Linked DNA regions of Homo sapiens: region 2 is linked to region 1. A link means that fine-mapping ties the variant in region 1 to the expression of a gene that starts in the linked region. Tissue or cell type: whole blood. Region 1 holds a variant in brackets; the other region holds the start of a gene. All regions are shown on one strand. Distances are between the middles of the regions.

The links. PIP is the estimated chance that this variant, and not a neighbour inherited with it, causes the effect.
Region 2: it holds the start of C2CD2L, and the variant in region 1 is fine-mapped to the expression of C2CD2L in whole blood (INTERVAL, PIP above 0.99).

What each region holds. Positions count from the first base shown.
Region 1 is chr11:119,129,504-119,137,385 of GRCh38, reverse strand. HINFP (histone H4 transcription factor) reads right to left here. Exons shown (of 10, transcript NM_198971.3): 3 at 6,432-6,661; 4 at 5,740-5,851; 5 at 5,404-5,556; 6 at 4,813-4,890; 7 at 4,605-4,725; 8 at 4,384-4,522; 9 at 4,167-4,291; 10 at 1,327-3,302. The coding sequence ends at 2,888. Among named protein-coding and RNA genes, the nearest start is that of HINFP, 12 kb to the right of the region's middle. The variant A/T (reference allele first, on the strand shown) is at 3,410.
Region 2 is chr11:119,102,831-119,109,380 of GRCh38, reverse strand. It overlaps C2CD2L (C2CD2 like), which reads right to left and starts at 2,037. Exons shown (of 14, transcript NM_001290474.2): 1 at 1,286-2,037. The coding sequence starts at 1,639. RefSeq lists silencers at 1,403-1,682, 1,753-2,202 and an enhancer at 6,260-6,550.

The sequences.
Region 1 (7,882 bases):
CTGCCTCCCAGATTCAAGCAATTCTCCTGCCTCAGCCTCCTGAGTAGCTGAGACTACAAGCATGTGCCACCATGCCCAACTAATTTTTGTATTTTTAGTAGAGACAGGGTTTCCCCATGTTGGCCAGACTGGTCTGGAACTCCTGACCTCAAGTGATCCGCCCACCTCGGCCTCCCAAAGTGCTAGGATTACAGGCGTGAGCCACCATACCCGGCCATAGTTGACACTTTTTTATATCCACCCAGTTCTTCTAAGTCCTCTGTGGTTGTGGACTTGCCACAAATAAGAGAAAAGAAGTTATCTGCTTCCAACTCCTGGGCCACCTGCCTTCTCTCCTATCCCTACCCCCTTTAAGGAAGACTAAGACAGGGTGTCTCCTTAATCTTCAGACACCATGATGCTGGGACCAGGGTTGACTCTAGGTGAAATTCTAAGGTAACCAAATTAGTATCATCACCCTCCTCCCTCCAGGAGCCCACTGTCACCCACCACAGCCTTTAGTATCCTTCCAGAGGCCTCTGGCTGCCTAGACTACTCAACAGTGACCCCTCACTCCTGGTCCAGTACTTTCTAAGCCATGCATACTGAGTCCAGGATCCCAAGTCACCCCTCCTCCTAGGGAATGGAATCACATGGTAACAGACCAGAATCTCTTCTGCTGTCTCCATGGTCCAGATAGAGCAATGCGATTTGGTGTGGGCATGACTGAGAAGACTAGTAGGGAAGGTCCTTTTCATAGAATGCTGGCCTGCTCCCGAAGACACTGCTCATGGAAGAATGGATAGAGTCATTAGTGCTGCATTACTCAAGGGACACCCCACGCCAGTGCTTAGACACCAGCAAAACTGGGGAACTGAAAAATAAAAGAAAAAATTAGAAACAGAATTTGATAGTTAATCTATATACAATATATGTTTTAAGTATAATCATGTTGAACTTTAAATGTTTCATGGCTTAATATTTTCATTCTGATTACATATGAAAAATGGGACACCACAATCTTTTCAGAGTTTAGAACCTTTAAAGTCTTCATCTAGTCTTGGTTAGGTGGAAGGTCTCTTCCTGGATGAAACCTTTCCTGATCCCTTGCCCAGGTAGTACCATTACTCCTATTTGGAGCCTTCTAAATGTACCCTGATTAACTTCTATCACTCAGCTTACCTAGTCTTTCCTTGCTTCTGCATTGCAAGTCCCTCCAGGGAAGGTCCTGGGTTTTATTCATCTTTGTATCCTTAGCACCTGTGCCTGGACTATAGTAGGAACTCAATAAATGGCTGATGGGATTAATGAAGAGATCTTTTTCTTTCCACAAATAGACACACACAGTTTTTCTTTTCTTTCTTTATTTATTTATTTATTTGAGACGGAGTCTCACTGTGTCGCCAGGCTGGAGTGCAGTGGCATGATCTCGGCTCACTGCAACCTCAGCCTCCCGGGTTCAAGCAATTCTCCTGCCTCAGCCTCCCGAGTAGCTGGGACTACAGATGTGTGCCACCATGCCCAGCTGATTTTTATATTTTTAGTAGAGACGGGGTTTCACCATGTTGGCCAGGATGGTCTCCATCTCTTGACCTTGTGATCCGCCCGCCTCAGCCTCCCAAAGTGTTGGGATTACAGGCGTGAACCACTGCATTCAGCCTTAGTTTTTCTAGTAATAGAATTAGGTCTTACAAAAAAAGGCCCAGAGATCCTTTTTGGGCAGCTTCCTGTCCCCAAGACTATTTCCTTGACCTCTCCAGCATAGCAGTAGACCATAAAAATGGACACAGGGTGCTGAGAAGCAGCTGAACCAGACGAAATGATGATTCTTATTTTGGGAGGTTTCAATCTCTTTGATAATCTAGCAAAAAACAGATCCTTTCCCCAGGAAAATGCACATTCAGACACACAATTTTCTAGTTTGGTTCCTGGACCACTTGATTGCCTCCCTTCCCTGGGAGGCTTCCCAATCCTCTCCACCCCCCAGCTTCCTTCCCACTCCCAGGTAAAGAACCCCTACCCTAGAGGCACTGGGTTCTAATCAGTATTCAGAGTGAGGCCATGGTCAGCTGCCCTATCCTCCCAGTGAGCCCATTCTTGTTCATTCTATAGCACCACTACTGCCCACTCACAGCCAAACACCTGGGACCTCCATGGAAATGGCATACGCTCTGAGAATAGCGAAGTTTCACCAAGGGGAGGAGGAGAAGACAACAGGACAGTTAAGCAAACAAAAAACAAACCACCTGAGTCACCAGAAGGGGAACAAGCCTAACTATTCAGCTCCTCTTCTGGGTGGCTGTATCTCCTCATTACCTAGTAAACTGCCACCAAATGTAAGAAGAAATAAATAAGAGTCCAAGCATTTATTTTATTACCAAAAACAATTTGTTAATAAACACGCTCAATGCCTCCAATCCTGTCCCTGAGGATAATCATGAAAGTCCTTGGGGTTGTAGAGGAAACCTTAAGAGGAAAATGGCTACTTGGTTATCAATGCCTTGGCTGGTGACAAAGAAAGGACCCTTGCAGGGACCAGTCACATGCCATCCTTGGGCCTAAGGAGCCCGAAAGATGGGAATGGATGTGAGCTAAGGATTTAATCACTGTCAAGCAGATCTTGAGGGTTATGGTTAAGCCTGATAACAGCCTCTTTAACAAGAACACACACATCCAGGATCCCCTCAAAGAATCCAGAGTCCTCAGGCTCCCCACAAAATGTAGTCTGGCAGAAAAGGGAAGTCTTTAGAGTCTGCAGAATGATGCAAACCCAGGCCAGAGTGGACCACACTGCTCTCGGCACCACTCCTAAAGGCATCCATTGGCAACGGCTGCCCACTAGGGGCACTGCCACTTGCCTGGCTCAAACTTCAGGACCTGGGGAAGAAATGGTCTGGCTCTGCGGCCTTCAAACCATCTGGATCTCTGGCTCCTCAGCTATTCCTTGAAGCTTTTCCATGATGCCCCCTGAAGGTGGCTCAGGGGCTGGGGGAGGCTCCCCTGGGGCTTCAGACAGCACATAGTAGACGATCTCTTGCTGGCCTTGGGCATTGGTCTGATTCACCACGTGGATGACAGAACTGGGGTTGTCCTGAGAGGCTGAGAGGGCTGTCCCTTCGCTACCCTTGCCCTCCTCTTCCTCTTCCTTACGTCCTGGCTCCCCTGGCACTGTTTCTAGAATAATGCCCTGCAGGCTGCTCTCGTTCAGCGACGTTCCCAGGCCCGATCCCTCTTGTGGTTGCCGCAGCAGTTGCTGTGTCAGCTCTACACTCTCGTAGCGAACCAGCTGCAGCCGCATATAGCCATCTTCATGTTCCTTGTACCTGGTGAGGTAGGAGCATAAAGGGCAGCAAACCCAGGCAGGGGGATACAGAAATGGCCGAGGCTGGCAAAGTAAGGAACAAACATGAGGGATGGAAGAAGTCCTGGA[A/T]TCCAAGTGACAGGAGTTGAAGACAAAAAAGGTCTTTATTGGAATATGTAGAAGAAAAGGCAAGAGGGAAAGATCATTACTCAAAATGGAAAGTTTTATATAGAAACCCAACCAGAAAAACAGAGACTGACTGACTGTGTTGGAGGGTGAAAGTGTCAAAGGATTTATGAGAAGGCCTTGGAGCTAAGGATCAGAACCCTTAGACTCTAGCTCTAGTTCCAGCTGCAGGACTTTTTGGCACCATTTATTGGGTTTGGCACCATGCCTTACAAGATTCAAAAAACAGAAAAATAAGCTTTGCTCCACCATTATTCTTAGGATTCTTTGAATCTAAATGGAAATGGCAGACATAAAACCACCATCAAATTAAGGTTTTATTTATTTATTTATTTATTTTTGAGATGGAGTCTCGCTCTGTCACCCAGGTTGGAGTGCAGTGGCATGATCTCAGCTCACTACAACCTCCGCCTTCTGGGTTCAAGTGATTCTCCCACCTCAGCCTCCCAAGTAGCTGGGACTACAGGCATGTGCCACCATGCTCAGCTACTTTTTGTATTTTTAGTAGAGACGGGGTTTCACCATGTTGGCCAGGCTGGTCTCGAACTCCTGACCTCATGATCCGCCCACCTTGGCCTCCCAAAGTGCTGGGATTACAGGCGTGAGCCACCGCGCCCGACCCAAATTAAGGTTTTTAAAACTGGTTGAAAAGGTATAAAAACAAGTGTGTTAATCTGGGAAGGAGGGTTGAGAGACATACCGAAAACGGGGATGCCCTGAGGGCCACTTGAACTGGTGCTTCTTGCGAAGGTGCACGGTGAGGTTGTTGCCCCGTGTGAAGCATTTGTCACACACATGACATTTGTACCTTGGCTCAGAGTCTCCCTGATGGGGAAGGAAGGGAGAAATGAGACCAGCTCTTCACCCCAGGGTCCCCCATACTTCCACTAGTCCTTCCCAACACCAGCCCCACTCACTTCATGTACTTTGCGGTAATGGGACTTGATAGAGCAGAGGGATCGGGCACTGAAGGTGCAGTTCTCAAAATCACACCTGTAGGCTGGCTCCTCGCTGTGGGTATCCAGGTGCTTCTGGAGGTCAATAAGATTCTTGCAGCTGCCATGAGAAATCAGGAGGGATTGGAGGACATGGGGAACACTGGAACATGAGCTGTTTTCTGGTCCCTGGTCCCCCTTACCTGTAGTCACAACAGTCACATTTAAAGGGCCGGTCCTCACTGTGACGAAAGCGCATGTGGTTGCGGAGGGAGGAAGGCAGCGGGCAGGTCATGTCACACAGAGGGCACTTATAGTGATTCACTGAGAGAAGCAGAGAGGAGGCTGTGATGTGAGAACTTGTGGAACCTTGGAGGGCAGGAGGGAGGCTGTGGGCCGCAGGCCACTCACCATGGTTGCGCATGTGGTCCCGCAATAGCCGCTCTGTGGCAAATCTCTTGGAACAGTGAGAACACTGGAAGTGCTGCTCTGGGGTGGGGCAGGCAGAAGAAAGGAGGGCTGTAGGTGATAGTGGAGAGGCACAGAAAGGAGAGGGGAACCATCCCAGGCAGAAGGGAACCACCCAAGGAGAAAAGGAGAGCTTAGGGAGCTATGAATGGACACAGTATCATGGAAAGAGCATGGGACTTAGAGAACCTGAGTTAGAATTCCAGCTTCACCACTTACTAGCTGTGTGATCTCAGGTAAGTGATTTAACCTCTCTGAGCCTCAGTTTCCTCATCTGCAAAAAGGGGGATAAGAAGCCTACCTCATGGGGCTGTTGTGAGGATTCCCTAAGTAACTGATACGAGGTACAGTAAGTACTGAATAACAATGCCTACGAATCTGAATCAGCAAAGAGACTATGGGAGGTGCCTGAGCCCAAAAAGAAGAGGCAGCCAAAAGGCAGGTCTCTTCAGTGGCCACCCCCACTAGAAACATGCCCCTAACCCATTCCAAGCAGGACAGCCTGCATCCACCCCACTTCCTCTGACTACTTACGATCCAATGAGGTCTGGCGACGGATGTGATCTAAGAACTTGGTATTGTTGGCAAACATGCCCCCACAGGTGGGGCAGGCTACCACTTTCTCCTGGGTATGGCTGCGGAGGTGCTCTCGAAGTTTACTGCGGTCCTTGAAGGTGCAGGTACAGCCTGGGAAGGAAGCCCTATCAGTCTCCTGCCACAAAACCCCAGTTTTGCCTAGGATCTGGTACCCCTGAGTCTCTCCAGCCGGCAGTCAACCTTGCCCCTGTAGGACCCCTATCCCTTTCTGTCCCAGCTCTTCAGGAACCCCAGCGTTTCCTCCAGAAGCCACAAGTTAAGAAGCAGCCCTACCTTTCCAGCCACACAGCACCACCGGGTTGTCCTTGCCGACTGCTTCGTATTCACAGCACAGACTGTGTGCTTCCACATGCCGATAAAACCACTCAGGATTGTCGAAGGAATTCTGTGCCAGGGGCAACTTGGGGTGAGGACTGAGGGTGGGTAGAGGGACTCACCCCTATGTGCCCGAAGAATTCTTGGCTCTCTCCCAAATTAACTTGATGGGGATGGGAAATTTTGAGGAAAGGCACTGCACAGAAATGGAGGAGTGGCCGGGTGCGGTTGCTAAACCCTGTAATCCCAGCACTTTGAGAGGCTGAGGCAGGAGAATCACTTGAGGCCAAGAGTTCGAGACCGGCCTGGGCAACACACCCAGACCTTGTCTCTACAAAAAATTTAGAAGTTAGCAGGGCATGGTGGTACATGCCTGTAGTCCTAGCTACTTGGGAGGCTGAGGTGGGAGGATTGCTTGAGCCCAGGAGTTCAAGGTTACAGTGAGCTATGATTGTACCACTGCACTCTAGCCTGGGCTTCAGATCAAGAGCCTGTGTGTAAAAAATAAACAAATTTTAAAAGAGCAAAAGAAATGGAAGAGAGATACTAGCAGGAATCTTGGAAATATAAGGCATCCCTGAAAGGGACAAGGCATCAGAGTTAAGACCCCCAGCTTCCTTCCACCCCAATTACTGGCACTGCCTGCTGACCTCACAGTGCTCCCACAGACACAGGAAGTGGTCAGGGATATCAGGGATGACGTTCCGGCTCTGGAAGTCCAGGATGCAGGGGCCAAGGTCAGCCTGGCTTTGCAAGGCCTGCAGCCCCCACTGTTTCAGCTTGGTGTGGTAGCAGTGGAAGTAGACATGGCGGATGAGGTCAGCAGAACTGTCCAGAGAACAAAAGCCACATTCCTGCCACAAGCAGGAGAATTCTTCCTCTGTAGAAAGGGGTTTAAAAGGAAGAGTCTGACACTTTCCAAGGCTCAGGTCACCTTCCACCTGCAGCACTAAACAGAGAGTGAGGAGGCTGGACTCGTGAGGAGGCTGGACTCTAACCAAATTACCAGGGTTCATTTAGCAAATACCAGTATTTAATGACCATAAATTGTGTGCCAGTTAGAGGGACTATAACAAGTAAAAAGTGTCCCACTCCTTGCCCTCACATAGCTTTCAGTCAGGGAGAAAGCATATTCATCAAATAATCAGATCTATAAATATAAAACTGCAACCAGTGATGAGTGTTACAAAGCGGGGATATACATGGTGCTATAAAAGCATTAAACAGAGGTCATTTGACATGGTGTTCTGAGAAACGTCCCCATGTTGAACTCTGAAGTACGATGGATGAGTATCTGTAAATAGGTGAAGAAGTGTGGTCTAGGCAGAGGTGAGAGTGTGTGCAAGGCCTATGCCAGAAACAGACAGCAGAAATGGCCGGCACGCAAGTCCTCTGACTTGAGTTTCTGCAGTTCCTGATGAAGATGCTGCCTCTCGATCTGACACCTCCCACTTCTCCTTGTAAAACCACCACTCCTCCTTCCCCTCATGTTTTGCTCAAGATCTGCCTTCTCCAAGAAGGCCCCATCAACTCTTCCAATCCATTTCCTATCTCTCTAGCATCCCTAAGCACTGTATTTTCAGCGCTTTATATAAGTTAACTTGTTTTGAAACACAGATACTTTAGAAAATATAATCATTCCCCAATTTTGCCTTTGTATAAATATGACTTGAATTTTGAAACTATCAATTATGGTTCATAGTCATCAGACTTAAAACAGAATTTGGGGTGGGAGAAGGAGAGCTGCCTCCATATTTCCTGTAGAATAGAGTTTTTCAGACTGTGTTGTGACCCACTAGTGGGTTAGGAAATCAGTTCAGTGAACTATCAACCACATTTTGGGCCGGGTGCGGTGGCTCACGCCTGTAATCCCAGCACTTTGGGAGGCCGAGGCAGACAGATCACGAGGTCAGGAGATCGAGACCATCCTGGCTAACACAGTCAAACCCCGTCTCTACTAAAAAATACAAAAAAAAATTAGCTGGGCTTGGTGGTGGGCGCCTGTAGTCCCAGCTATTTGGGAGGCTGAGGCAGGAGAGTGGCATGAACCCGGGAGGCGGACCTTGCAGTGAGCGGAGATCGAGCCACTGCACTCCCACAA
Region 2 (6,550 bases), 27 kb after region 1:
CGTCCACAGTAATGGAAGCAACCTACCGCAGCCCCACCTGGAGAGCAGTGCGGACACAGAATTGAGGAAGGGGCACAGAATTGGCTGGCAACTCTTCCTTGGGTCTTGAGATGGAGGAAACAAATCCATAGGGTTCATTTGCTTGGCAAACCAGGGGAAGCCAACTCCTTTGCTCTGGTAGCTGTCTCATTCAAAGGCTAGGCCAAGGAAGATGGGGAGATGGATGCTTGAAACCTCAATCTCCCCACCCTCTGCAAGGGAGGCCAATGTCCAGTTGAGTCAGCTATCCTGGGGAGTTGCTTCTGACCGAGGGACAAGGTACAGGGAGAGTTGGATGAAGAGGTGGGTTCAAGGTGTAAACTGACAGATGCCATCTGGCTTTTAGCCAGCCAGCTGGACAGAGTAAATAGAGCAATTTCTTGTGGACATTTCTGTTTCCGGCATCTGGGGAACTAGTAAGGTAAAGCCTCCAAACTCATAGTGGCTGGAAATAGAGAACCCTCTGAGCAAGGAGCTGATGGACTGTGAGAGCAAGGAGAGATTGCTGGGTCAGGATGGGAGGGAGCTCCAGAAAAGAGAGACTTCTACCTCCCACCTTATCTCCATCTCATGACCACGCTTCCTGCCCCACTTCCTGGGAGGCCAGATGCCCATGGTGCAATGGGAGGAAGTAGGCTGGACTGGTTTGTGACTGACCCTCAAGGGGCAGTTCCAAGCTCATCTACTGGTAGGGGCACTGTCAATCTGCTCTCCACCTGAACACTCCCCAACCCCCAGTGAACCACAGGCCAGCATGGAGGAGAAGGATGTGTTTGACTGTAGCAGTGAAATTACTGTCGGGTAGGGGGGTGATTCAGGCTCCTTGGGGATCTGCCTGACCACACCAGGGATTTGGGGCATGAAATGTTAAATGGGTGTGGTGGCATGAGAAGCAGGCAAATTCCTTCTGCAGGTGCACCTGTCTCCCATGCCCCAACACAACCAGCACCCAGGCAAGGCGGAAGTGCCCTCAGGCACAGGGATTAGCGTTGCTATGAGAACAGCAACTTGTGCATGGGTTTGGAACCAGAGTACCTTGCCCACAGAAATGGAAGTCTGGGGACCCAGTTGGATTTCTACAACCTCCAGCCTTAGCGGCACCCTTTTCTCTGATCCGGGAGGGGAAGAGAAGCCATAGGGTTCCCCAGTTTATGCCCACCCTCGTCTGGCCTCCTAGCACGAGCAGTCAGTCCCTCCCCTGGAAGGAAAGGCTGAAGGGACCACCCAAGCGCTTGGTCCAACTCACCCCGTTTCTGCAGGCCTGCTCGTTCAGCGCTCGCACCCAAGCCCGCTGCCAGTTCTCCCGGAAAGACTTGAAGGCGAAGAGTGACGCCAGGAGGCCCCGGACTCCTGGCTCCTCGGCGGCGCCAGCCCGAGTCGCCCGCAGCCGCAGCAGCGAGCGCCACACGCCCAGCTCCCGCAGGGAACCCGCGGGTTCCCCGGCTAAGGCGGGTCCCGGGCCCCGGTCCCCGCGGGCCCGCGCCAGCCACAAGCCCCGGGCATATTGCAGCAGCCAGGCGAACACCGTGAGCAGCGAGGCGGCGAAGAGGATCAGCAAGGCCGCCCAGCCCACGTCCCGCTGCCCCCAGCCCGGATCCATGCTCCGCGCGGGCTCCGATCCCGGTCCCGGCTGGGGCTCACCCGCTGCCCCGGGGGAGCATGGCCCGGGCGGGCCGCGGGGAGGAGGTGGGCTCCCCCGGGGCTGGGCGCGCGGGGTCGGGGGCTCTCCGCGGCTGAGTGCCCAGGACTAGTGGGTGCCACAGGGCGAGGAGAGGAGGTCCTCGGGGGTCGCGATGCCGGGGTCTCTGTCTCCGTGGTCCGGGTCTCTCCTAGCTTGGTCAGCAGTCGGACCCGTTAGTCGCCGGCCAGTGCCCGACTCCTCCCACCGCGCGGGCCCCGCCGGACCCTGGAGGGGACTGGTCTGCAGAGACGCTGGGGCTCGCGGGCCGGCACCGGCTCCGGGAGGGCTGCGTGCGCAGAGCTGACACTGACAACACCGCCGGCGCCCCGCCCCCACCCGCCCTTAAAGGAGCCGCACCCGCGCCGGGCGGGGCCAGGACAGCCTGGCGCTCCCTCGCTGGAGGAGGGCGGGAGGGCTAGCAGCGAGCGGAGGAGGTTCCGGGGTTGAAAATAGGCGGGATCTTTGATCACCTCGCCCCATCTTGCAATCGCGGTGCTCCCACACTCAGCTCAAGGCAAGAGTAACTTCACTTACCTAAGATGCTGCCTTTGCTTTCCCCTATGCTTGTTAGATTTCCACAGGTCGGACGCCTGTGAGGTTAAGAAGGAGGTGACCCCTGTGGAAATCACCGCCCCCTTCTCCCAACACCCCCAGACTCAGCGACTTCTAGCTTCCCATTTCCTGGGGGAAGCTAGGCCCAGGGTAAGGAGACGCAGAGCGTCCCTCCCAGATAGAAGTGTCTGGCAGAGGTCCAGCTGATGTCAACAGAGAGAAAGCAGAACCTGAAGCTGGGAGAGGTTGAGAGTAGAACACCGAATTTGAATTCCCCCCACCATCATCACCCTCCTTCCTCTTGGAGCTTGGACCCAGAAACAGCCCCATTAACCTCCTTGCTCGTGTAGGTTTGTTCTGGAGATTCCCAAGCCCAGGCTGTGTGTCTGTTTTTAAAAATAATGTATTTCCATAGTAACAGCTCCTGCCTATGGAGCACGTGTAGAGGGGGTGGTAATGACAAGGGAGCTGGCAATGTAGCACTGGACTATCAATAGATTCAGCCACAAGACCTTGCCACTCTAAGTATGTGATATCCCAACAAGCTCCCAAGAAATGGTGCTGTAGGTACACTGCCCAACCTCTGGCCTCAGAAGCCATCTTTTCCTAGACTCAAGGAGTTGATTCAACCTCTACAGGACTGGGGCTCATCAATGCTTGCTGAGGACAGGGGAAGGAAATACCTGCAAAAGGATTCAAAGGAATCCTGGGGGAATTCACATTCTCCCAAGAGCCCCTTCTTCATACATGTGGGAAGGTCTTTGGCACACAGTCCCTTTCTTAAAGAGGTAGGATGGAAAGGTGTTAAGTATCTTTCTCCCAAACCCAAGTAGTTGTCTGAGGAATGAGCACATGAGAATAAGAGAATAAACAATGCCTTCTGAAGTGTGGGATGGCAGGGCTAGACAGAAACTGACAGGTCAGCAACAGGTTTGTCTGAGCCAGAGGAGGTGGTGGGGTAGCCTGGGCCTCCCTAGATTTCCCTGTAAGGAATGATGGGGAGAGGTGGGGGTGAATGAGGTAACCTCCTGTGGCCCTGCCCATGCATTGTCACTGGACTGCCAAATCAGTGGAGATTCCTAGAGTCTGGGTTTCTAATCTCAAAGGGAGGAGAAGACATGAAATCAAGGGAGGAGAGAACTCAGGGCCAGAACCAGGGATGCAGGAGGAAGCTGTCAGTGGGAAGAGCAGCTAGGGTTTAGGGGAGCAGGTTATGCAGGAAGTTGTCCAGGTAGAAGCTTTCCCTATGAAGACCCTCTTCCCCCAAGAATCCTTCAGGAACCCTCAGACCCCCTAGTGATCTCCATTCTCTGACTTCTTTGATTTATTCCCTCAACTTCTCCACTGAGTGCTTGGTCCTATGCTGCCAGATACTGCTTCACAATTCAGTATCTGAACTGTGAGTCTACCTAGTTACATGAGTCTCCCTAGTTAGTCCTCCCTCTTTTTTTTTTTTTTTTTCTCTTTTCTTGAGACAGAAAGTCACTGTTGCCCAGGCTGGGGTGCAGTAGCGAGATCTTGGCTCACTGCAACCTCCACCTCCCAGGTTTGAGTGATTCTCCTGCCTCAGCCTACCAAGTAGTTGGGACTATAGGCATGCGCCATCATGCCTGGCTAATTTTTGTTATTTTTAGTAGAGACAGGGTTTCACCATGTTGGCCAGGCTGATCTCGAACTCCTGACCTCAGGTGATCCTCCCGCCTCGGCCTCCCAAAGTGCTGGGATTACAGGTGAGAGCCACTGTGCCCAGCCTAGTCCTCCTTCTTTCTTCCATTACTTAGACCTCTAGCACTTACATTCTGCCTTAGAGTCTAGCTGATTGTTTATATGTCTGCTTTTTCCATGCATCAGGAAGCTGCCTAGGGGTGGGAACCATGTCTTAGTCATCTCTTTTCCCTCAAATTCAACCAAGATGCTCCAAATATGCTGAAGTAGACTCCCTGGGGGCAAGCAACTGCAATTATATTAGTTTGTATCCTCCACAGTACTGAAGAGCTTCCTATGCACATAGTAGGGATTAACAAACTTTGTAATTTTAAGAAGTCTAACAGAAAATACTCAAGTATGCTTTGAGAATTTCTATGCCATTTCTGTCTTTTGAAATATCATTCATGCCATACCAGTGGAATGGGAAATCCTGGGGCTTGCTTTTAATTAACAACTTTTTTCTAGACTAAGAGGGGAGAGGTGGGAGGAAAAGGAAAAAGAGTGATTCAGCTGACTGGACAGAGCCACAGATAGAGTCCTGCAAGTATCACAGCCCCAGACTATCCAGAGGGGTCTCATTGTCTTTGTGGCACTATGAAACATTTTTGGGACAGGCTTTGTCTAGCAATCACATTCAGTGGATTGGCCTTGCTCATTGGGAGCCACTCAAGGCTACTTAGAAGAGGTGTGCATCTCAAACACTGTCTGCTCAGTCCAGGGCCACTGACAAGTCAACTGGTCTGTGAATCCTAGGGCCGGCTTCAGCATTCAGGAAAACGCTTTGAACTTTTACCAGGGAAGGCACACAATTTCAAGTGAAGCCAAAAGTCATGTGTTTGTTTCTCCTTCTGATTAGTCTGATCATCAACTGGGACTTTATCATCATGGGAACAAAAATACTCAGATTATCTGACAAGTATCTTAGTAACCATTTTCTGATAGTAACATGTATATGTGGATGATGAATCCTTAGTCTCTCTTGTCTTTGATTACATCCTTCCACCCTCCCCAGGAGGGTGGTGGTAGGGAGGGCTAATGATCTCTGGAGAAGAAAGAGATAAAGCTTCCCAATACCAGGCTGGGAAGGAAGATTTATTAGGATTGGCCTCCTAATAAAAAAGGAAATAGATACAGACTGGCTCTCAGACCTCCAGGGAGTCTCAGTATACTCGTCATCAACAAGATAACTGAATGCTGCCTCCTCTGGGATCCCACAAGCTCCTCCTTTCCACCAGCTTCTGGTGTCTCACTGTCGCTGCCTGTGAAAGGTCCTTCTACTCTTATAATCTACTGAAATGATACTTCTCTTCCTCAAGACCACTTACTCTGGTCACAACTAATTGCTCCCTCCATATGCACCTATTGCCCTCAGTCCTCCTTTCAGCCTCAGCCTCATTATGTGTGATGATGCCTTCCTTGTACACAGATGTCTGTGTTCCTAGCCCCATGGGGACACCCTGTGGAAGAGAAAACACTTGCCTCCCGGGAGTTTCTAGTTTAAAAGGGGCACACGTGCATACACACAACACACACAGAAAAATAATAGCAGTGGGATAAGTACTGAAAATCTGGTGGAATACTAGCAAGTAAATTACGAAAATTTATGTATTTTATACATATCTGGGTTTTTGTTGTTGTTAATTAGAGCCATTTTCAAGTAGAAAAGCCATTTCACATCTGATTTAGTTTGTTTGTTTGTTTGTTTTGAGACAGTTTCCCCTCTGTTGCCCAGGCTGGGATGCAGTGGCATGATCGCGGCTCACTGCAACCTCCTCATCCCAGGTTCAAGCGATCCTCCTGCCTCAGCCTCCTGAGTAGCTGAGATTACAGGCATGTGCCACCACACCCGGCTAATTTTTGTATTTTCAGTAGAGACGGGGTTTCACCGTGTTGGCCAGGCTGGTCTCGAACTCCTGACCTCAAGTGAGCCACCCACCTTCGCCTACCAAAGTGCTGGGATTACAGACGTTAGCCACTGCGCCCGGCCTCACATCTGATTTTGAGGGAAAGAAGAAACTATCTTCGGCTTAAAAACGGTCAACATGACCCTGACTCCTGGAACATGCCATAGAGGGAAGAGTGGACAAAGCGCTAGGCTATTGGAGTCCTTTCCCTAACTCACTGGTGGTGACTTCCTCTCTGACAAATGGAAATCATTTGCCGCCTAAGAGCCTGTCGGGGAATGAAAGGTAATAAAGATGCTGGTGAACTGGCTGGGCGTGGTGGCTCACGCCTGTACTCCCAGCATTTTGGGAGGCCAAGGCGGGCAGATCACCTGAGGTCGGGAGTCCCAAACCAGCCTGACCAACATAGGGAAATCCCGTCTCTACTAAAAATACAAAATTAGCCGGGCGTGGTGGCGCATGCCTGTAATTCCAGCTACTGCCTGTAATCCCAGCTACTCGGGAGGCTGAGGCAGGAGAATCTCTTGAACCTGGGAGGTGGAGGTTTCGGTGAGCCGAGATCGCGCCATTGCACTCCAGCCTGGGCAACAAGAGCGAAACTCTGTCTCAAAAAAAAAAAAAAAAAAAAAAAAAAAAAGCTGGTGAATTGTTGTTTGCAGGGGAACAG